7 separate regions of the Homo sapiens genome follow, and all the other regions are reported to be linked to region 1. The links are microRNA targets in miRTarBase. Many come from high-throughput screens and were not tested one by one. Region 1 holds a microRNA gene; each other region holds the end of a gene's coding sequence.

Region 1 (3,113 bases):
CGTCCCTGTGTGTGTTTCTGAGGAACTCCTGTTCACTCTGAGGCCACTGCCTAGGTGCCCGTCCCTGGTCTGCTGCTGCTGGCTCTGATGAAGCTAACCAGCCTTCTTCCCCACCAAGAGGGTGTCCCAGCAGCAGCTATGGCTATGTTCCGGCGGGGGGAAGGCGGGGAGCCTTCCTCCTCACTGGCTGTTTCATTTTTTTATTTTTTTGAGGCAGAGTCTCTCGTCACCCAGGCTGGAGTGCAGCGGCGTAATCTCGTCTCGCTGCAACCTCCACCTCCCAGGTTCAAGCGATTCTCTTGCCTCAGCCTTCCAAGTAGCTGGGATTACAGGTGCCCACCACCATGCCTAGCTAATTTTTGTATTTTTAGTAGAGACGAGGTTTCACCATGTTGCCCAGGCTGGTCTTGAACTCCTGATCTCAAGTGAGCGATCACCCGCGTCTGCCTCCTGAAGTGTTGGGATTACGGGTGTGAGCCACCACACCCGGCCTCTCACTGGCTGTTTCAGGTGAACCAAATCCCATGGCCCCAAAAAGTGGCCAGAGTGCTTCAGATCACTCAGCAAACCTTTGAGTTGCTGAAAAGTTTACTTTTGAGTTTTAAACTGTACTTTGAAAACTATATTGTGAACTGTGTTGACATGAGGAAAGGCTGGGCTCCCTGAAAACATCCAGTTCCACAGCAGGGCGGGCCCAAGCCCAGCCAATCCCCAGGCAATGCAGGGCAGGGATCCCACCTGGTGTAAGTACGGGCAGAGGGCAGAGCCAGGCTGTATCGAGGGGCGGCGCTGGGACCCTCCTCGCCCAGAGTTCCTACTCATCCCCAGCACAGAAGTGCTCTGTAGGGCCAGCTGAGGACACCCCGGTTCACTGAGGGTGGCCCACAGTAAGTCGCCGTCTGGCAGTAAGTTAGCTCTGCAGGTGTGGACCCCAAGACCACACACAGCCTTTCTCAGGTGCAGGTCCTGCCAAGCCTCACTTCGCAGTGGTGACAGGCAACCCCGTCAGGGCAGGGAGCTTCCAAAGGCCAGTCCGAGTCCATGCCAGGCGTCCACTAAATCTGCCTCTCCCTCTCCAGCGAGCAGGTGCAGCCCTCAACTCCTGCAGGCCTGGGGAGCGGAGACAGGGCCTGTAGGCTCGGACACGACCCGGTCCTGATTTTAACAGTAGACTTGAGAAGGCAGGCTCAGCAGACAGGCTGCTGGAGGATCCACCCGCTGTCTCCCGCAGCGGCCCCACTGAAGCGGCAGAAACACACAGAAGCACCAAATCTGTCACTCTCTTCCCGTAGGAAGTCCCCAGAGGTGGCCCTCCGGAGGATGGTCCTGTTGGCTGAAGATATGACCACACCTGTGCCTGCCCAGGGCCACCTTCAGCTTGGCAACAGGAACTCCGCACACTGGTACCCTGGACACACAAGGAAAAGAAAGTTCCCTCCAAGAGGGTATCTGGCCCAGCCTCAGCCCCACCAAGCGGAGGGCAGCAAAGCCCCCGAATGATTTCGCTTACCCCCACCCGCCGTCCCTGCTGGCCAGACAGGCACACCCCGTCCATAGGGCACCCCCTCCCCACGGTATCCAGCTGCCCTCGCGTCCCCGTGTGGCCGCTCGCCTGCCCGCCAGACCCGGACACGGGGCCAGGAGGGTCGCGCTGCCCAGGCACAGATCAGCCGCTGTCACACGCACAGTGGGTCTGGGGCAGCGCAGTGTGCGGTGGGCAGGGGCTGCCCTGCGCCTGGAGGCACTGCCGGGTGGGCGGGCGGAGGGATTGACCCCACCCCCGTCCCCTCCAACTTGGGCGTCCGAGCCCCGCCGCGCCTGCCCAGCCCGACCCCCCGCAGCCCCCGCGGGAGGGCGGCCTCTGAGGGGCGCCCCGCCCGCCAACCTGGGATCCCTCGCGCGTCACCTGCGACCCCGGCGCGGGGCCGTCGCCGGCTCTCGGCCCAACTTCAGCTGCGGCCGCTGGCACCCTCTCGCCCCCCGGCCCGACCCGACCGGCCCCGGGCCCCGCGGCTCCACGCCCAGCCCCGTATGCAAATGACCTGGTCCCTCAGCCAATGGCCGGCCTAGCCGGGCCCGCCCTACCGCAACGCAGCCAGTGGGCGCGAGGGGGGTTCGCGACGCCCCGCCCACCGCCGCGCGGCCCTTCGCGGGCGAGGCCGGCGCGTTCTTTTCTGCACGTCTGCCCGGGGAGGGGCGGCACCTGCCGGGCGGGGCCTGCGGGGCGCCAGCTGCGAGGGCGCGGCGGGGCCAGGGCGCGTCCCCCGGCCGGGCGGATGGTACGGCCCGAGGTGGTCCTCCTCCCGCCGCGCGGTGGTATGGCCCGGGCTCGCGGGGCTTCCGGGCTGGGCGTGGGGCGCAGCCTGGCGACGGGTCCTCCGCCCGCGGGTGTGCGTGGGGCGGCAGGGCCGGCCGGGAGCTGCCCCTCTTCCCGCGGCGCGGTGGTACGACCCGGCCGCCTCCGTGCCCCGCACCCGCGTCCCGCGGGCCCGCCCCCCCCAACCCGCTGGGCGCCCGGCGCACGTATCCCGGGCCGTGACCCGGGTGGGGCCTGCGCGGGCCCGGACACGGCGTCCTCGGGACGCACGCACCACCCCCCGGGCGGCTTGGGGTCCCCAAAGGACGCCCGGGTCCGTCCTGCTGGCGAAGAGGGGGCTCTGGCTCTGCCTGGTTTGCCTGGCGACCCCCACGGGGCGCCCTTGGGGGCTCTGGGTCCCTCCTGCGCGCTCTGTCTCCGCGGAAGCCTCTGGAGCCTGGAGGGGGTGCCTCAAGGGCTCAGGGGTCTTCGCAGCCCTGTGCCGGTCTTTGAGGGGACGAGGCGAGAGAATCCTGTCTGTGCGCTGAAAACGTGTAAAATCAAAGGAGCCTTGACGGTTTGACCTTCGTTAGGACTCGCAGGGCCAGCTTCAGACGTGGAAGTATCGGACTCCGGGGTGGGGCTCCAAAGTGGCAGCCAAAGGAGATTTGGCCGCCGGCCCCCCTTGGCACTGTCACCCTGGTCCTCGGCCCCGGGCCGTCTCCCCTCAGCTCCCTGGCCCTAAACTCACCGCCCTGCTCTTTGTCCTCCCCTGGCCCCATGACCTCCCTGCCTCGGCATCCGCGCAGGCCTGGGC
Region 2 (3,113 bases), not on the chromosome of region 1:
AGGCAGATGACGATTTCTGTGAAAGGAGCTTAGAGGTACAGCTGTTTCCTTCTGTTCAGTCAAGTGCCAGTTTCATAAAGTGCACCTCTGCCCTATCAGCTTTGGGGGAAGGGTGGCATATGGGGAGGAAGGGATCATTGAGAATACAGGGTGAAAAAGAACGACGTTACTGAAGGTAGACATTGCTAGTGCAAGGTACGGAATCCATGTGCAAAAGGTGGCTGGAACAAATGTTCAGATAAGGTGCGATTTGCCAACAGGAGCAGAGAACTCTGACACCAGATCTCAGATGAGGCCAAGGAAATGCGCGGGGCACATACAGAGAGGACGACCTGCAGCCCTCCAATGGCCACGTCATTCCACCGGGGAACTTGTTTGGAGTTTTGGCACCGTGGGCTAACCGAGCACTCTTCTGACATATTCTTACAACTGGAAATGCTTTGTTGGTCCCCATGTTCCTTGACTTTCTCTAGGGCCATAAAGGCAACATCTTCTATTGCAGGTCCTCAAACATTCCAAGGAAAACACTGCTTCACCTCCTGCAGACAGCTCATTTCCCAGAAGCCTCTACAGAAGCCCGTCCTCCCTGGGACAGCAGGGGCAGGGGTTTGCAAGATAAAGGAGGGTCAGCTAAGGACATGAAGCCTGCAGAAAAGGCTATCAGATGGCGCCTGAACTTAAGGTGGGAGGCCCCCTTCTAGAAGGCATCCCGGGAGCATCCAACAGCAATGTGGCACTTAGGGCTGTGGGACAAACAAGTGGAAGAGTCTTTTGGAGACGTGGACCCTTTTCCCATGCTACTCACAGTGAAGCAAAATGCGACAAAAGCATCCACACACGGTGACTTAGTAAAGCAAGCACCGTCGGGGTGCTACTTTCATGACAGCATATGGTCAAGCTATAAAGGTGTGCATCGATCAGTCCTGTGAAAATAGAAGCTTAGTTATTAGCATGTATTGAGGCAACTTGTACTTTGATTCTTGTGTCTTCTTCACATGTGTGAATGACTGCTATGGGACAGAACATATGGTTAAAAACAGGAGCGACAGCAACATAACACACAGGGTTGGCCGGCTCCATTACGGGTAAGACTCAGAGGCTGCTCCAGGTGTGTCCGGGGAAGCCAGGCCCTCACACTGCACAGCTTACAGGGCCCTGGGGTGGGGGCTGTGAGCTGGCAGCCTAGAGGACACAGCTCACCTGCACATGGTCTCTGAAAGTGTTCAAATTGGTTGCCAACATTTATAAATGGAGAGATGGCACCAAAAAACATCTAGGTTTCTTGTCTCTTGAAAAATCAAAGCTGTGGCCACCCTAGGCCCACTTTTCCACATGGCAACAGGCGTGGAGCTGGGGGCTACTGCCCCTACTGTGTAGGCGGTGGGCTCCCCATAGTCTCCTCTGCCCTGCTGCCGTGTACCTGGCTCCCTTCACTCATCCACATCACCGGCCCTAGGCCAGGGTCTGAACCACACACACAGAATGGCTGCAGTAAGCAGGAACGGGAAGAGCTTTCACATTCAGAACAAGAAGGGGCTTTTGAGTAACTAAAAAACAATCTGAGCATGTTCCAGCACTTCAACCTTACTCTTTCAGAGCTTTGGGGTAGCAGGCAGCCAGCTAGAGCACACTCTCTAAGGAACTCTTGAAAGTTGATGTCTAATTTTTAAGTACTCATGAGGTGATGGAGGAGAAACTAACTCAGATGACTGCGATACGATACATCTTTCCTTATAAGAAGTCCTTAAAGATGATGAAAAATGTGAAGCAACTCATGTGAGAAAGCTGTAAGTGGTCAGAGAAGCAAGCTGACTTTTGGATGAAGGGTACAACACAGTGTCAGGGAGTAGGTGATTTCTTTTCCCTATAGTTCATGGTAGTGATACCTAAATGGGTGGCACAAAATGAGTTCTGGCTTGTTAGACTGATGCTTCTCTTTGCTGCAGGTTTTGAACAAACTGTCTGGCTTACAGGGGTGAGGGAGAGCACCTGACAATGGGTGGTGATGTGCGTGGAGCTCCTACCCTGAACATGGCTTCATGAGATGTCCTGTGGTGGGTCAATGCTTTATCTCATTCCATGGAGCCTTCAAGATGACAAGAAAACATCAAGAGATAGGAGCTTGAGATAACAACATTAAATAACAGAACATGTAACAGGGTAAAACACTGAGAAGAAATGAACCAATTCATTGTTTCCTCCCAAGAGAGACTGTGACACTAGTTTTAAAAAGCGGCAAAGTCCTTTCTCTACATACATGCTTGGAGATACCCCAAACTTAGAGATTATGAAGTAGGCCAGGAAATTCACTTATTGCACGATGCTTGGCAGGGAACAAATGACGCTGATTTTTTCTTTTTTAACTGAACTCTCTCAAGAAAATGTTTTATGAAAAATTTCATTTATAGTTTCAGCCATAGGCAGGGAGTTTTAAGGGATGGAAAAGTTTTCACAAACTTTAGACAATGAAACTATACTTTTGGATGTATGTGATCAACTCAACAGTTGTTGACAACACAACCGAACATCAGAAACTAAACCAGCAAATAGGCACAAAATAAGGCAAGTGGGTTAAATAGTTGAAAATTGGTTAGAAAACATGCAAAAATAATACTGAGTTTTCTTTTAAAAAGTTTTAAACCGTCATTAAATGTTTCTTTTTGTAGAAATCTGAAGAGTTCTGCGTCTGAATTTGAAATTGGACTTTATAAAGCCTAGAAAACAGAGGAGGCGGTGCCCTGCCCTTGTCAGTTGTTGTTCTCTTTGGTGGTGATGGTAACCAGCTGCTTGGCAGCCTTGGCGATGTCGTACGCACACTGGATGACCTGCTGCGTGACCAGCTGAACGTCTGTGGGTGAGCCGGGGTCCCCTGGGAGGGTCTTCTTGCACTCTGACTGCAGTCGGTAGGCACTGGACGTCAGTAAACGAAGGGAAGTCCTCACCATATCAGACTTGGGTTTCTAAAAGGAAAAAGACAGCCGTTTACCCTGAACTGCAGGGCAGACATCCAAAAGCAGGGGACAAACATTCTTCTAAAGCAAACCAAGCTGCTCCCCAGAGTGAAAGGCGGTTTGGTCCTGCCCTTTCTCAAAGGGGTGCTTCACACACTCCAA
Region 3 (3,000 bases), not on the chromosome of region 1:
CTGGCCATGTCCAGCTCTTTCCTCCAGCTAGGCTCCAGCCCATCTCCACCGCCAGCCCCACCCCACAGCTGGTTCTGCTGCTGTCCTGGGGAAATGTGGGCCTGCTTCTCAAGGCCCGAGCTGGTGTGTAGCCTAACTCAGGCAAGGAGGTTCTGCCTGGGAGTTAGTGTGCAGGCTGCTAGCAGGACGCTGGGTGCCGGGTGCAGGTAGATGAAGGGTCCTGAGCCCTGCCTGCGTGGGTACTCATCTGCAAACTGCTGCAGGCATCTGCTGCTCTGGACTCGTGCCTTAGAAGTTCCCAAAACTCTGATGGCCACGTGTTCCCTGTTTTTAAGTGAGATCCTGTCCTGGGTCTTCAGCATCTGGTGCCATCCAGCTGACCTAGGACAAGAGAACAGGTCCTGTTTTGGGGTGATATCTGATACATTGATGGGCCGGGAACGGAGTTTTTCATCCGAAGACTAAACTCAGCTTCCTCTCTCCTACCAGGCTGTCGAGCATTGCAAACGCCATGTGTGGAACTAGGAGGAGGAATATTCCATCTTGGCAGAAACCACAGCATTGGTTTTTTTCTACTTGTGTGTCTGGGGGAATGAACGCACAGATCTGTTTGACTTTGTTATAAAAATAGGGCTCCCCCACCTCCCCCATTTCTGTGTCCTTTATTGTAGCATTGCTGTCTGCAAGGGAGCCCCTAGCCCCTGGCAGACATAGCTGCTTCAGTGCCCCTTTTCTCTCTGCTAGATGGATGTTGATGCACTGGAGGTCTTTTAGCCTGCCCTTGCATGGCGCCTGCTGGAGGAGGAGAGAGCTCTGCTGGCATGAGCCACAGTTTCTTGACTGGAGGCCATCAACCCTCTTGGTTGAGGCCTTGTTCTGAGCCCTGACATGTGCTTGGGCACTGGTGGGCCTGGGCTTCTGAGGTGGCCTCCTGCCCTGATCAGGGACCCTCCCCGCTTTCCTGGGCCTCTCAGTTGAACAAAGCAGCAAAACAAAGGCAGTTTTATATGAAAGATTAGAAGCCTGGAATAATCAGGCTTTTTAAATGATGTAATTCCCACTGTAATAGCATAGGGATTTTGGAAGCAGCTGCTGGTGGCTTGGGACATCAGTGGGGCCAAGGGTTCTCTGTCCCTGGTTCAACTGTGATTTGGCTTTCCCGTGTCTTTCCTGGTGATGCCTTGTTTGGGGTTCTGTGGGTTTGGGTGGGAAGAGGGCCATCTGCCTGAATGTAACCTGCTAGCTCTCCGAAGGCCCTGCGGGCCTGGCTTGTGTGAGCGTGTGGACAGTGGTGGCCGCGCTGTGCCTGCTCGTGTTGCCTACATGTCCCTGGCTGTTGAGGCGCTGCTTCAGCCTGCACCCCTCCCTTGTCTCATAGATGCTCCTTTTGACCTTTTCAAATAAATATGGATGGCGAGCTCCTAGGCCTCTGGCTTCCTGGTAGAGGGCGGCATGCCGAAGGGTCTGCTGGGTGTGGATTGGATGCTGGGGTGTGGGGGTTGGAAGCTGTCTGTGGCCCACTTGGGCACCCACGCTTCTGTCCACTTCTGGTTGCCAGGAGACAGCAAGCAAAGCCAGCAGGACATGAAGTTGCTATTAAATGGACTTCGTGATTTTTGTTTTGCACTAAAGTTTCTGTGATTTAACAATAAAATTCTGTTAGCCAGATCTGGGCCTAATGTTTCTGTGACCCTTCAGCTGGAAGAGTTTGTTCCTCTCTGATGAGCTCTGAGCCCATGACACCTTTGGGGCCCAGCACTCCCATGACCCATCTTGGCCAGAGAATGAAAGCAAAGTGGATAAAGGAAGATCCCACCTCATCCTCCCCAAGACTCAGGGCCAGCAGTAGGTCAGGCGCACCTGAAGGTCGGCTCTGCTCTTCACCTGCCCCTGTCCCTGCTCCCTAGAGGCCAGAGTCAGAGCACGTTGCCAGTTCCTTGAGAGTTGCCTTGATTTTTAAACAAACCATTCCAGAAACTTGTAGTGAGTACCAGTTAAACAAAACCAAGGGGAAACTATTGAGGGAATAACTTAATTTAAAAAAGGAACACACACAAACACTCCACATTCAAAACCGGAGGGAACATCAGTCACTTCTGTTTATAAGCTGGGCACACATTTGGGAAGCCAGTGAAATGGAGAGAATGCTTGTTCATTGACATTGACTTTCTTGTCCACGTGGGGATGCCACCTCCACCTGGACGTCCAGCAGAGAGGGATGTGGCGGAAATGTAGCGAGACTTGGACTGGAGTCGGGTGTCCGGCCAGCAGGGGATGTCCGCGCTGGGCCTCCCTTGCGCCTGCTTAGCCGGAGGGGATGGTGCTTGCGGGGTGGAGCTGGGAGGGAGGAGGGCCTGTTTGGCCTCTTTCAGCTCAGCCTGAGCCAAGCTGGTCCCCAGACTCTTGGGCCCCAGTGACCCTCCTTACCTTGTCCTTAGATGCTTAACATTTTTGTTTGGTTTTCTTATAAAAATAACAGATCTTATGAAGGTAGAGGTCAGATGCTGAATGAGCGTCTGGCAAAAGTGGGATCTGAGCAGCTGATGCGGGCTGCCAGGGCCAAGCCAAGGTTGTCCCCAAGGCCTGGCCTTGGAGGGTCCCCCCCGACCGGCCCTGTCCCTGCCCTTGCTCCCTGGGAGGGGACGGTGGATGGGTGCTGCTCACACCCACAAGGCTTCCCTGTCTAGTCACAGCTCTGTGATCTCCAGGGGGGTCTCCATGATCACGTCGCGAAGTTTGTGCAGGGGTGTGGATTTGGCGGATTCTGTGCGGGCGTTGCGCTCGAAGGCAGTGGCCTCGGCAGCGGTCAGCGTCTCCAGCGAGCGGCCCAGGCCCTTCTGGTCTTCCTCGGGCAGGCTGTTGAGGTCGGTGGCCAGCAGCGTGCCCGTGCTGCCGTGCACCACATGGATCCCATCGGGCCCCTTGAGCTCCACTGGTGGCTTGTGGCGGAAGCGCAGGCTACCCTGCCCTGGGCTGTGGTCTCCTGGCTCCTCGTCCAGC
Region 4 (3,113 bases), not on the chromosome of region 1:
ACCTTATATTACTAGCCTCTTTTTGTTGCAGGATCTCTCCCTCTAAATTACAGCAGTTCATTCAGCAAGTAGGGAAGGTAATTCTTGTTAATCCTCTATTCTGTTGGCGATTCTTCCACGTACTTAGTAGAGTTAAGGCAAAAACTTACCGAATTGGAAGTATGTATCAGAAGGAATTCTTAATTATTCACTTTGAAATAAAAGAATTTTCCTTATAGGTTCCAAGTAGTAGACTGTACTATAATACTGCTCTTCTGAAATAAATTGAATATTTTTACCTTGCCAAAACTATCATTGAAGGCTGGAATTTTAGGTACAGTATTTTTCTGTGAATGATTTTATGTTGTTAAATATTCTTTTAAAAATTCATATCTGTAATTGTTACTGTAGAAAACCAAATACAAAGAATTCTAAAACCTTTGTACCGTCTCTGTGTATTTGAGATTACTTAAAATATCTTTTTTTCTGTTCCAAGTTCTACTCAGTGAATGTGGATTACAGCAAGCTGAAGAAGGAACGTCCAGATTTCTAAATGAAATGTTTCACTATAACGCTGCTTTAGAATGAAGGTCTTCCAGAAGCCACATCCGCACAATTTTCCACTTAACCAGGAAATATTTCTCCTCTAAATGCATGAAATCATGTTGGAGATCTCTATTGTAATCTCTATTGGAGATTACAATGATTAAATCAATAAATAACTGAAACTTGATATGTGTCACTTTTTTATGCTGAAAGTATGCTCTGAACTTTAGAGTATAGGAAATTAACTATTAGAATTTAAAGAATTTCTTGAATTTCTGTAGTTTGAAAATACGACTTTAAGCTGCTTTAGTAAAACACTTCCATTTTGTGTATAGACTGTTGGTAACTTCACTAGAGCATACATAACAACTGGAACTGGAAATTATACAAAAGTAAATTGGGAAGGATACTCCAGCATCTGACACTGGCAAAATGGAAACCTTTGAGTTTCTCTTACTGGCTGTTGAAGTGTGTGCAGTTTTTAACAATGGTTTTTACTTGGCATCTCTTTGTTGTGATTTTCAAGGTTATAAGTTGCTTTGGTCCTAGGATTGAAGTTGAAATCTGAGTTTATCAGTGCTAACCATGGTGCTAGTAGTCAAGAGATCTTGAGAATTTTGGCTGCTGAGTCTTGGTGCAGGGTGCAGGTTTTCTTTTCTTTTTTCTTTTTTTTTTTTTTGAGATAGTCTCTGTCACCCAGGCTGGAGTGCAGTGGTACAAACATGGATCACTGCAGCCTCTACCTCCCGGGCTTAAGTGATCCTCCTGCCTCAGCCCCTAAGTAGCCGGGACTACAGGTATGTGCCACCATGCCCAGTTAATTTTTGTAATTTTTTTTAGAGACAGGGTTTTGCCATGTTGCCCAGGCTGGTCTCAAACTCTTGAGCTCAAGCGATCCATTCTCCTCAGCCTCCCAGGGTGCTGGGATTACAGGCGTGAGCCATTGCGCTTAGCCATGGTGCAGGTTTTCAAAGGCCAGGAAGTATATTCATAATTTTAAGATGGGGAATATAGCAAGTTTTCACATAGGTGTGTGTAAGTCATCACATCATAGAAACTTGAGGAATTCAGTGACATTAATTTTGGATTTTCATACGTAAGTATACAATTAAATGTTTACAGGGTAGTAGAAGCACATTTTAAATGTCAGGAACTGAACTAAGTATTTGAATTACGTGGATTATCTCAAAAATTTTGAAATTGTTAAACGAGTTGAATTACTTGAATTCATTCTGTTAGTCAAATGGTGGATATTTACACCCATGTAGTTTTGAATTTAGAGTGTGTAGAGTGTTTTCAGTTACCAGACTCCATGCTTTTACCTCCTATGTGTCAGGTATAATTTGAACCTCTAAGAACAGGGTTTCTCAACCTTGCCACTGTTGACTATTTCTGAAAGACAGTTTGGTTTAGCAGACCATCCCATGCGCTTTAGCTTGTTTAGTAGCTAACTTGGGCTCTGCCACTACAGACAAAAAGCACTCTTTCCCTCCAATTCCCACAGGCTATGAGAAGAATGGAGACATTACCAAATGTCCATTGGTGGGCAAAATTGCTTCATTCCTACCTCTGTTGAGAATTACTCTAGATCCTTTGGCACAAATTACCTCAAAGTTTAAAATTGTGTAAACAAACAGTGTGTCATGTAATTGAAAAACATTAAGCAACTCCAAATAAATGCTACATTAAGAAATTAGTAATAACGTTTTCTAGAATTGAGGATCATTTTATGCATCCTTAAAAATTCTTTGAGTAGTATCTTTCTACTTTGTGTCTATCCTTGGACTTTGCAATGTAAGAATACATATGAAGTTTGGCATGAAATAGGATATGTCTTAATGAAGAAACTATTACTGCTATTTAAGAAACTTCAATGGCAATCTAAAGAAATTGTCATTTACAAATGCATCAGATACCAATGCTGCCACGAAAGATAACACACTTTTTTTCTTTGAATGTTTAGAATTGTGCTTGTGCTTTTTTTTTTTTTTTTTTTTTTTTTTTTGAGACTGAGTCTTGTTCTGTCACCCAGGCTGGAGTGCCGTGGCGTGATCTTGGCTCACTGCTCACTGCAACCTCTGCCTCCTGAGTTCAAGCTATTCTGCCTCAGCCTCCTGAATAGCTGGGATTACAGGTGCCCACCACAATGCCTGGCTAATTTTTGTATTTTTGGTAGACAGTTTCGCCATGTTGGCCAGGCTGGTCTCAAACTGCCGACCACAGGCGATCCGCCTGCCTTGGCCTCTCCAAGTGTTGGGATTACAGGCGAGAGTCACTACTCCTGGCCCTACTATGCTTCATTCAGAAAACAGACTGCTGCCTTTGTTTCTCATGTTAATGAAGTCTGCAGGCAAAGCTGCATTTAAATACAGATATCCTTGGGTAGTATTTACATGTATTTAAAAATTTGCAGTTTTCATAATTTATATATGCTTCCCAGTAGGTACTTGTCTTACTCTGTTGCTATAAATGAATACCTGAAACTGCGTAATTTATACATTAAAAAAAGGGTTATTTTGCTCGTGATTCTGTTGGCTGGAAGATTGGACATCTGGTGAAAGCCTCAGGCTGCTTCCACTCATGATAGA
Region 5 (3,113 bases), not on the chromosome of region 1:
AAATAAGTAGTAAATTTTGTTATGAGAGTAAAGCAACTGTCTTAACAAAGTGCCAAGTTTTATTCACATGCAGGGGAAAAAAAGAGTGACACTATAACCAGATTTTAATCCTTTCTTCATTTGTCAGCTGAATAGATTCAGGCTTGCTTTTTGCTTTTGGATTGTTCCAGGGTTCTCCTAATACTTTCTACCTCTGGGATTATTTACCATAGCAGAGGTTTAGCTTGCTGTGATCCCTTCTCCTCTAGGCTGGGAGGTCCTTGAAAACAGGAACATTTTATTTACCTTCTATCTCCAGCAGCTAGTAATAGTGTCTGGCACACAGCAGATACTCAGGAAATGTTTGATGAATGATTAGATTGCTGTTTTTCTTGATGTGTTAATTTTGACAGAGGAAGTCTGAAGATATATTCAGCTTTGGAAGATTATTGTGAAAATATTCTTCCTTTTTACTGAAAGAAGCATATTTCCCCCCTACAATATGGAAGTTAATTTTCCTTTTGGTAGATCATGTATCTATGAGTCGATTGATTCTTCTGTTTTTTCTTATGCTTCATCTTTTTGGAAGAGAAACCACGGATATTTCCCTATCAAATCTGTAGATTCTTCTCTGTCCTCTAAACATCATCAAATGCTATGATCAGGATGGTGCATGACAGACAAACTGATCATTAAGTGTAAGTCAAGTATGTTAAGAAATGGAAGTCATATGTCAAAACAGGGAGCCTGATTCTCCACTCTAAAACTCAATCTTTTTGAACCTGAGTAGTGGAAGGTCTTAAGTAGTATGCTATTTTCTTCCCATTCTGGGACACCTCCTTTGCCATGGCTGGACTAGAAGCTCATTAGAATACCTTCCATTTCTATTTATGTTCCACATTCTCCAGAACCACTAGTAGGTTTTCAGGTAGCTCTGCAGGGTCATGGTGACTCTAACCAAAATAAGGTTGCCATTCATACTGAGAATGTAACTCACATTGAGGAGTTAGGTAGTTTCCTTACCAACCAAGGAACAAACTAGATGCCTAAACTAGCTGCTAATTATTGTCTTTGGAGGAGAAATAATGCCACATGAAAATCTATTCCTGGAAGAAATAACTACATTAAAAATAAGACAATTGTTTTTAAAAAATACTTCCTCAGTTCTATGTTAGACATTGTAGGAGATAAGGCCCTGGAGAGGCCAAAAGCAACAGCAGTGTCTTCTATCCAGCCCAGTCCCCCAAACCACAGACCAAGCTAAAGAGAGCAATCCAGGGGGATACAAAATTAGCCAGAAACAATATAGCTAAAATGCATCACACAGCTTAGAACGAGGCAATCTGGGACAAAGGGGTCAAAGACCTTGAAGGTTACTTGTGAAGCAGATTCATTACTAAGGGAAAACATACTCAGGTAAGTTGTTCAAAAATGGGTAAAAAGATGCTAACTGTGGCAAAATGAGTCTGCTTCTAAAATAACAGTGCAGATGTAGACTGCGATGAACTCCAGGAAGACAGAAGAACCAATGGAGTCAATCCATTAATTTAACTTGTATTCTTTGCTAGAGGGTGGCAGAGTTGACAGCTGTTGAAAAAAATGGGCCTATAAGGTGGACTCGCAATTATTAGCTTCAAAGTGAACTAACCCACAATTGTATTCATGATGATCATTAATTTTTATGTGTGCATGAAAGATGGCCCTGCTTTAAGCTGTGTAGAGTTGTTTCCAAGCTGACAAGCTTGGAAGCCTTGTTCATTAATTACTCTAAATTCCTATGGATGGATAAAAGACCTCCAGAGGTCTGAGTTGTTAAAGGCCCCCACTGAAGGAAATACAGACTATACATAAAGGAGTCATTCTGAGTTCAAGGGGCCCTCCCACGGCGTATCAATTCCTCCCAAATATTTTTGGGGGTAAATGAAACATTATAAAGTGAATTTAATCATTTTTGGAAACATTAATTATAAAGCATTTTATATCATTAGGCAAGCATCCCCCTGAATGGCTATGAAATATTTTACCTCTGAAAGTTGAAACATTTAGCTTGAATAAAACTTGACATTAAAAAAGTTATGATTAGACTGGTTCATTGATATATATTTGGAGATCAGACATTTACAAGGACATAAGTGTATACAGTACCTGCAAACACACAGACACAGCACATGAAGGTACAAACACATTTAGTTATTTTCACATAATTCCCAAGAGAACATGCAATGCTAAATTGGCTTGATATTATACAGATGCAATTTTGGAATATTTACTTTTAGTTTTCCAAATGATCTTTATAAATCAAAGTTATATTTCCTGATCAATATTAACAAACATTTTCACATGGTGGCCTTGCCATGACAACTTGCCCCTTACAAATTAAATATGCTGTATCAACATTTGGCTCTGAAAAATGTTTAACATTTTATTTGGGGGGCTTATCATATTTTAATGTTTAATATTTTAAATGCATATTTCCCCATATTCCAAGTAATGCATCTTTATATTTTTGCAAAGAATATTGTAAAGTTCACCACACCAACAGCAGAGAAAATTTAGAGAGTGATATTTTCATTTTTTCTTTATAATGCTGTTAATCCGATTTTTTAAAGCCAGCCCATTTGTTTAACACTAGGTACCTGTTACAATACATTAGATTCGTCTGAGAATGTTCGTAAAAGAAGAGGTCTGACTGAAGGTCTGGCGGATAATGAGTCAGATGCCCTTCTACAGCTCAGATTTCTCTGTAATAGTGAGGCAAAGATACTTAAAGCATTTGAAAATTGGTTAACCTACCTGGTGATTATATATTTAAAAAAAGGTAAAAGAAAAAAATCATTTCCTATAGACTACTCCTCTGGCCAAAAGTACAAATGATTACACTATATAGTAAATGTATAACATTCAAATGAATACATTCAAAGGCCTAAGAAAGTCTCCAACTCGAATTGTTTTTGTGGTAGAAGTAAACAGACAACAGTAGTATGTAGTAAACTTGGGTTTTTGGAATGGCACTGGTAAGTAATATGGTAAGATGAGTCAATATGGTTTGATTAGTAAACCTTACCATCCTTTTGGTGAACACCTCTGAGAGTTGTGCCGGTGCCGTATTATCAAACAAAGAGAAATTTGTGCAA
Region 6 (3,000 bases), not on the chromosome of region 1:
TTTCTGCTCATACATCAACACATACTAAAGTATGAGCTTATTTTGGGGTAGAGACTATATCTTGTGTCTCCAATACCCAGGATAGAGCCTGGCACTCGGCAGGTGCTCGATAAATGTGGATTGAATGCATGGACGATTGGATGGATAGGCCCACCTTTTCTGTCTTATCAGTCTGTAGGGAGTCTCAGACTGGTCTAGTGGCTGCCCCCAGTTCTTTCCCCACCTGCTCTCCCACCCCACACTCTTCCCTGTTCCGCTATTGGGAAACCCACCCACTCTGCAGAGTCTAGCTCAGATTCCATTTTCCATGTTTTATGGGTAGAGAGGAGCAGAAAACACAGTCCTTACCACCAAGGGCTCATTCTCACAAAGCAGCCGGCAAGAGCCACAGGGGCACACAGGATCTGGCCTGCTCACACAGTGCCAATTAGAGAGCCTGGGTGGGATGGAGTCCCATGGGTGCACAGCTTGGCAATAAGGTGTCCCCTCCCTGGGCCAGGCACTTGGCTCAGCAAGTGAAGTTGCAGGTACATTTCAGCCCCTATCCGCACTCCCTTATGCTGTGCTGGTCTGTAAACCCTGACCTTCTCTGGGGCCCCTGGGAAGCGGCCATTATCCTGTCTTTTGCCCTTCTGTCCTCTCTGCCCTCCCGAGCGATGCAGGGTGGTGTAGTTATGAGCAGCCCCAGCCCCAGCAAACTCCCAGCACCTTGGGCATAATGTTTGAAATGAGTAAAATTACAAAGGGTTATAAAGAAAGCTAATTATATTGAAAGAGTTATCAAAACATTTACATTTCTTGATATAGTAATATATATGCTTTCTTATTAACACATTAAAAATGAGGAAGGCCTAACAACTATGATCATTTCAAAGTACTGATGAGTGTAAATTGTATTTTGAGATATCTTCAACAACTATAATGCAGCCTGAAAACGTGTGATTTCTGGTTACAAAGTCACAGGTACTATTAATACTATTATGGCTTGCTGCCCAAGCACACAAGAGAATGTTAAATTTTAGTTATAGGCAAGTGAAAATAAAGATAGTTTTTTTTCTGTCTAGGTTCTCAAATCCCCTGAAATCCATAGACTCCAGTCAAGAACCTCAATTACAGCATGGAAGGGGAAGAAAAGGTGGAAACCATAATTGATGGAGCCTTTAACTCCCTGCGTCATTTAATCCCTACACCAACCCTAAGAGAGAGATACCACAACCAGTTTTTCTGGTGGGATACCTGAGAATCAGAGAGGTTGAGTGATTTGCCCAAAGTCAACCAGGCCCTGCCTGGAGGCCCCTCTTGCTCTTTCCAAGCAGCGCTGCCTTTGTAATGAAGATGAGCCCCAGAACAAGATTTGAACACCTCGTTGTGACTCTTTGGCCCCAGAATTCCCTCTCCTACTCAGGCCCTGTGCCCTGTGAGGTTTAACCAGTGTAACAGAAGGGTGATGGCCCCTTGAAATCACACACACTCAGTTATTTTTATCTCCAGTTTATTTTTTTTAGACTAAGAGCAGAGTATGAAAGTCACAGCCAAAGCACTTGAAAAAGGCCCAGGAGGATAGGTGGGACCACATAGGGTGAGCAGGGCAAGGTCCTGGGAGATGGTTCCCGGCTCAGGGCTGGAAGGGAGGGGGCGTTGTTGTTTTACGGTCTCCAAAAGTGTCTGTGCGTTGCATAGGTCCTGTCTTCACAGAAGACAAAAGAGGGGCCAGGGGGTCCCCCAGGTGTGGGGGGCCTAGCCTGGTGGGGAAGGGGTCTGAAGCTGAAGGGGAAGTCAAGAAAGGTCAGGGGGTTAAAGAGGGAAGGGACTCTGTCTGTCTGTACATTATATATAGAGATATAGAGTCTGTACATGCCTGCCTGGCACCCCAATGCCCACCCCTTGCCATCCTTGTCCACTGCCCGCCCCCCCAGGGGTGTCTACTTGTAAACTTGGTTTCAATCCAAACCACAATCCTGGAAGTGGGAGTGGGGGAGGAGGACGTGCTTATTGCTGTAAACAGGGGAAGGAAGCAGCAGGCAGTGCTGCCCCTTGCCCATCTAGTCCCCTCCCCATGTTCTGCCCCTGGAGGAGAGCAATGGGGGTGCCTCCCACGCTTCGATTTGCTCTCTCTGGGGGCATATGTCTCTCTGGGGGGACAAAGGGAGAGGGCACCAGGAGTCAGGGAAAGGTACCAGGGGCCAGGGAGTCCTGAGCACTGCCCTTTTTGGCCCCCAAGTTTGGTACCAAACATTACCAGAGCCACAAGGCCGCCCGGGACCCATGGCTGTCCCCGTGCTTGGTCCACTACAGTGCCCTACGTGGGGGGAAGGGGTAGAGGGGGCGGACACAGATGTATGGTGCAGGCCCCACTTCTAGCCATGGGAGGAGGGGTCTAGGCCCACTAGGCTTCCCTTGGAGAGGCCAAAGGCTCCCTGCTCCTTCCAAGCCCCGCCCCATCTCTCCCCCCCCAGGGGAGGGGGCAGAGCTAGGAGGCCAAGAACGTCATGAGGAAGAAGGCGATGCCCACGGCCAGGGGCAGGTGTTCCCGTTTGGGGCTGGTCCCGCTGATGCTCTTCTCAAGCTTGGGCACCTGAGGGTTCTCTCCCTCAAAGTCTTCTGTGGACAGAGGAACAGACAGACTGGTGAGGGCTGGGTTGCGCGCCAGGGCAGGGGCACGCGGCAGCAGCAATGGAGCCAGGGACGTGACCACCCACAGGGTAGGAAGTATCAGTGCCCCCAGGGAAGGCATGCGAGGTGAGCAGGCACCGGGGCGGGGGGCTGCGGTTCCAGCAGTGGCCACCAGAGGGCGCTGCGCAGACTCACCCAGCACGTTGATCTTCACATTGGGGCCCATGGTGAACTGGGGGAGAGTGGGGACCGGCTTCTCCCCGGAGTGCGATGCTGCGGGGTGGGGTGCGGGTGGGGAGAGAGGAGGGGAGAGTCAGGGCCAGGATTCCCTCCCCTTGCTACGGCTGGGGAGCAAGCCCCCCTCACCTGTGCCCTCCGCCCCCACCC
Region 7 (3,113 bases), not on the chromosome of region 1:
GAGGCACATACATAGAATAGGTGAGACTCAAACCCAAACTTTCCAGTCATTCCTTTGAATCCTGCTTCAGTCCCGCTCCTTCCATCATAGTCTTCCAAATATGTTAACATCTTTTTCAAATTTATATTGTATAATATTATCACTTCCTTCGTACTCTAAAGAAAAAGTATGGCAGTCTTGTCAGTGAGGGCCATTGAATGATTCCACAATGAAAAATAGCTGAGATGTATCCAGACATCTCAACAATAACATAGCCCTGGGGAAATGGATGTAGACCTGGCAAAAGATTCTCAAGACAGAGAAAAAATTGCAGATGTTTATAAGATCTGATTTTTTTTTTTTTTTTTGAGACAGAGTCTCTCTCTGTTGCCCAGGCTGGAGTGCAATGGCAGGATCCAGGATCTCGGCTCACTGCAACCTCCACCTCCCAGGTTTAATCGATTCTCCTGCCTCAGCCTGCTGAGTAGCTGGGATTACAAGCCTGCACCACCATGCCCGGCCAATTTTTTTTTTTTTTTTTGTATTTCTTGTTTTTTTTTTTTAAGGAGAGACAGGGTTTCGCCATGTGGGTCAGGCTGGTCTTGAACTCCTGACCTTGTGATCTGCCCGCCTTGGCCTCCCAAAGTGCTGGGATTATAGGCATGAGTCACTGTGCCCTTCTAAAGATCTGATCTTTAATAAATGGGTGAATCTTTACAAATTTCTTCTTTCTGAAGTCCCATTCTTTGGTTATGAGACCCCCGGAGCTACAAAGAACAGGACTGCCTATGAAGAAGACCGGCAAAAGTAACTGGCAGTTATGAAGAACTACAAGATGAGAAGGAAGGATTCACTTCAATATTATACACATACAAATAAGTATATAAAATAATATAATAAAATTGTTATTGAATGTCAGCAAGTAGAAAAATGCATTGTAAAGATGTTAAGACCCATGTGGTCCATTTTGATTATTGTTTTTGAGGGGAACACTTCAAGAAAAATAATTGAAAAATTAGCACAATATCAAACAAAATGTAGCTCATGGGTCCTACTATAGTTTGGGTTCCAACTATTTTAAGCAAGAAAGAGGAAAAGTTGGGAAAGAATGAGGCGAGAAAAACAATGAAGTAAATCAAATGATAAAAACCAAATGATGAGAGTTAGATTGTGAGTATGGGGGAAAGATGGCTAGATAAAGGGGCTTCAGTGCAGCCAGCAAGTGGTTAAAGGCATGGTTTGAGGAGGGCATCTGGAAGCTGTTAAGAATTTCCACAAAGGGTGGGCAAGAAGAAATAGCTTCCATGGCCAGAGGACCTCAGCTGGATATCAGGAAGAATTTCCTGACCGTAAATGTCAAGAGCTCTCGTTTACAGGATCCAAAGGAGCCTTCTGGGATGTGCCTATCTTAGGAATATTTTTCAGCCTCAAGCGAGAAGCTGTTTGGGTGGTTTTCTGCAGCCCTGGGTTGGACTGTGTGACCTCCACAGAATACCTTGGTCTCGTTGCTGAAGGGCACGCCTTACACTGGGGCTTTCACAGTGTGGTTGCCAGCAGCTGACTCCCGCCCAGGGGCTGTGGAGTTTTCCCCACAGAAAGAACAACTGAGCCTTTCACTCCCTGTTCCTCACTTGGACCAGTCCTTAGGTACATCTGTGGTTTTTCAGCTCTTCAGCACTTAGGCACTTTCCTCCTGAGCCAAGGGCCTCCTGGGAACAATGCAGCATCTGTGTGTTGATAGTAACAGCCTATGGGCCAGAGTCACTCAGCCAAGCTCTCCTTTCACCACACAGGAGCTGGATCACACACCTTACCTGCAATAATCCAAGGCTTAGTCAGCCTCAGCCCGTCCCACTGCCAGTGCCCTGCTTCTCCTATCTGCTCCCCAACCTTTCACCTAATTTGCTTCCTAGCTCAGTTGCCACATTTGTTCCAATCCTCATGCAGGATGGTCTCTATTTTCCACCCATCCCACCCACAGAGTGAACAATAACATGTTAGTGGCTTATGGTCTGACACTAAACAGTGGGCACTGCAGAGGGAGGAACATGCTGCTTAGTTGGGCAGCTGGGTATTTACAAAAGGTTTGGCCTGCAAAGAGATGCCAGCCTTTCTCCTATAACATGATTGCCTTTTATTTATTATGCAGGTTGTTGATTTACATAGGGAGTTGGAGATGCTAACCAAGCATGGAGTTTTCACATGGTCTATTTCTGCTGAGTTCAGGGACTTGGAGACAGCCTTTAACTTCTGGCAAAAAGACAATTTCACAAAGGTGTTTAAAACCATCCTTTGGTTTTTGATCCTGAGTCAGAGACGGACATGTGCTTATGAAAGAAGGTAGAGTTTCAACCCTTAGGTAACCTTAAAAGAGCAGGAACTATGTTGTGTGTAAGTCATGTGCAGTATACAAACTTGATATTAAATGACAAATTGGAACAATCTTTCTCTAGGAATGCCTCTCTTTCATAGAGGCATCACAGTGAGTCTCTTAAAGCCTTGATCTAGGTGTGTTACAGATGGGCTTACAGAGTATGAATGCACGATAAGAAGGAAATTGGATAGGGAGTGAGGATATGAAATTTAAAAGAAGGAAGAAGAGAAAACGAGATTTTAAGACAGGAAATGAAGCTCTGTGTGTGTGTGTGTGTGTGCGTGTGTGTGTGCACGCGTGCGTGCGTGTGTGCACGTGCGTGTGTGTGTGGTTGGCAGGCCTAGTGATCCTGTTGTTTAGTGTCTCTGAGATTTGAGTTGTGCCTTTTTACTTTGCATAAAGTAGATACTTGGCCATATGTAGTTCCAAGGAGAAGTCAGAGTTCCACCTTTGGAGTCTTTCCTTCTGATTCACGATTTTCTTTCTGGAAAACATTATAACAATGATATTTAGATTAGTAAACTGAGCTGTTTACTCCTGGAAGTCCTAAATCCTTCTTTAATTTTTATCTCATGAACCCTGTTATATGAAGTTTGATTTGTTGCCCATTAATGCTTTACACTAAATGCTGAAATCCAAAATTCAGCCTCTGAATATGCAAGGCCTTTCCAAACATGCTTTTCTAGTTTGAGTCTCACGATATATCCTAACAAGCATCCTGACTCCGGCCACCATATCCTCATAGACTTTTGCTTTTAAT

Evidence for each region. The annotated mature microRNA hsa-miR-210-3p reads CUGUGCGUGUGACAGCGGCUGA and lies in region 1 at 1,667-1,688, opposite strand. An mRNA with a match to its seed (bases 2 to 7 or 8) in the 3' UTR can be bound and repressed. Matches are read on the target gene's strand: a 7mer-m8 pairs with bases 2 to 8, a 7mer-A1 pairs with bases 2 to 7 and ends in A, and an 8mer does both.
Region 2: the mRNA of GIT2 is a reported target of hsa-miR-210-3p. Seed matches in the 3' UTR shown: 7mer-m8 at 2,007-2,013.
Region 3: the mRNA of PSAP is a reported target of hsa-miR-210-3p. Seed matches in the 3' UTR shown: 7mer-m8 at 597-603.
Region 4: the mRNA of COXFA4 is a reported target of hsa-miR-210-3p. Seed matches in the 3' UTR shown: 7mer-A1 at 589-595.
Region 5: miRTarBase lists ATP11C as a target of hsa-miR-210-3p. The part of its 3' UTR that is shown has no 7-base or 8-base seed match.
Region 6: miRTarBase lists EFNA3 as a target of hsa-miR-210-3p. Seed matches in the 3' UTR shown: 7mer-m8 at 1,667-1,673.
Region 7: the mRNA of ERP27 is a reported target of hsa-miR-210-3p. Seed matches in the 3' UTR shown: 7mer-m8 at 2,630-2,636.

What each region holds. Positions count from the first base shown.
Region 1 is chr11:566,446-569,558 of GRCh38, forward strand. It overlaps MIR210 (microRNA 210), which reads right to left and starts at 1,753; the gene lies at 1,644-1,753. It overlaps MIR210HG (MIR210 host gene), which reads right to left and starts at 2,012. Exons shown (of 2, transcript NR_038262.1): 1 at 1,907-2,012; 2 at 1-1,408. RefSeq lists enhancers at 1-358, 2,944-3,113.
Region 2 is chr12:109,930,231-109,933,343 of GRCh38, forward strand. It overlaps GIT2 (GIT ArfGAP 2), which reads right to left. Exons shown (of 20, transcript NM_057169.5): 20 at 1-2,960. The coding sequence ends at 2,748. Among named protein-coding and RNA genes, the nearest start is that of TCHP, 32 kb to the left of the region's middle. RefSeq lists an enhancer at 2,398-3,113.
Region 3 is chr10:71,814,966-71,817,965 of GRCh38, reverse strand. It overlaps PSAP (prosaposin), which reads left to right. Exons shown (of 14, transcript NM_002778.4): 14 at 490-1,668. The coding sequence ends at 525. CDH23 (cadherin related 23) reads right to left here. Exons shown (of 70, transcript NM_022124.6): 70 at 2,019-3,000. The coding sequence ends at 2,688. Among named protein-coding and RNA genes, the nearest start is that of MIR7152, 26 kb to the right of the region's middle.
Region 4 is chr7:10,931,055-10,934,167 of GRCh38, reverse strand. COXFA4 (cytochrome c oxidase associated subunit FA4) reads left to right here. Exons shown (of 4, transcript NM_002489.4): 4 at 476-2,225. The coding sequence ends at 532. Among named protein-coding and RNA genes, the nearest start is that of COXFA4, 7.5 kb to the left of the region's middle.
Region 5 is chrX:139,729,036-139,732,148 of GRCh38, forward strand. It overlaps ATP11C (ATPase phospholipid transporting 11C (ATP11C blood group)), which reads right to left. Exons shown (of 30, transcript NM_001353812.2): 29 at 2,616-2,720. The coding sequence ends at 2,619. Among named protein-coding and RNA genes, the nearest start is that of MCF2, 22 kb to the left of the region's middle.
Region 6 is chr1:155,086,014-155,089,013 of GRCh38, reverse strand. It overlaps EFNA3 (ephrin A3), which reads right to left. Exons shown (of 5, transcript NM_004952.5): 4 at 2,809-2,886; 5 at 1,476-2,601. The coding sequence ends at 2,471. It overlaps EFNA4-EFNA3 (EFNA4-EFNA3 readthrough), which reads right to left. Exons shown (of 5, transcript NM_001407761.1): 4 at 2,809-2,886; 5 at 1,476-2,601. The coding sequence ends at 2,471. Among named protein-coding and RNA genes, the nearest start is that of EFNA3, 8.7 kb to the right of the region's middle.
Region 7 is chr12:14,911,946-14,915,058 of GRCh38, forward strand. ERP27 (endoplasmic reticulum protein 27) reads right to left here. Exons shown (of 7, transcript NM_152321.4): 7 at 2,094-2,837. The coding sequence ends at 2,790. Among named protein-coding and RNA genes, the nearest start is that of ERP27, 25 kb to the right of the region's middle.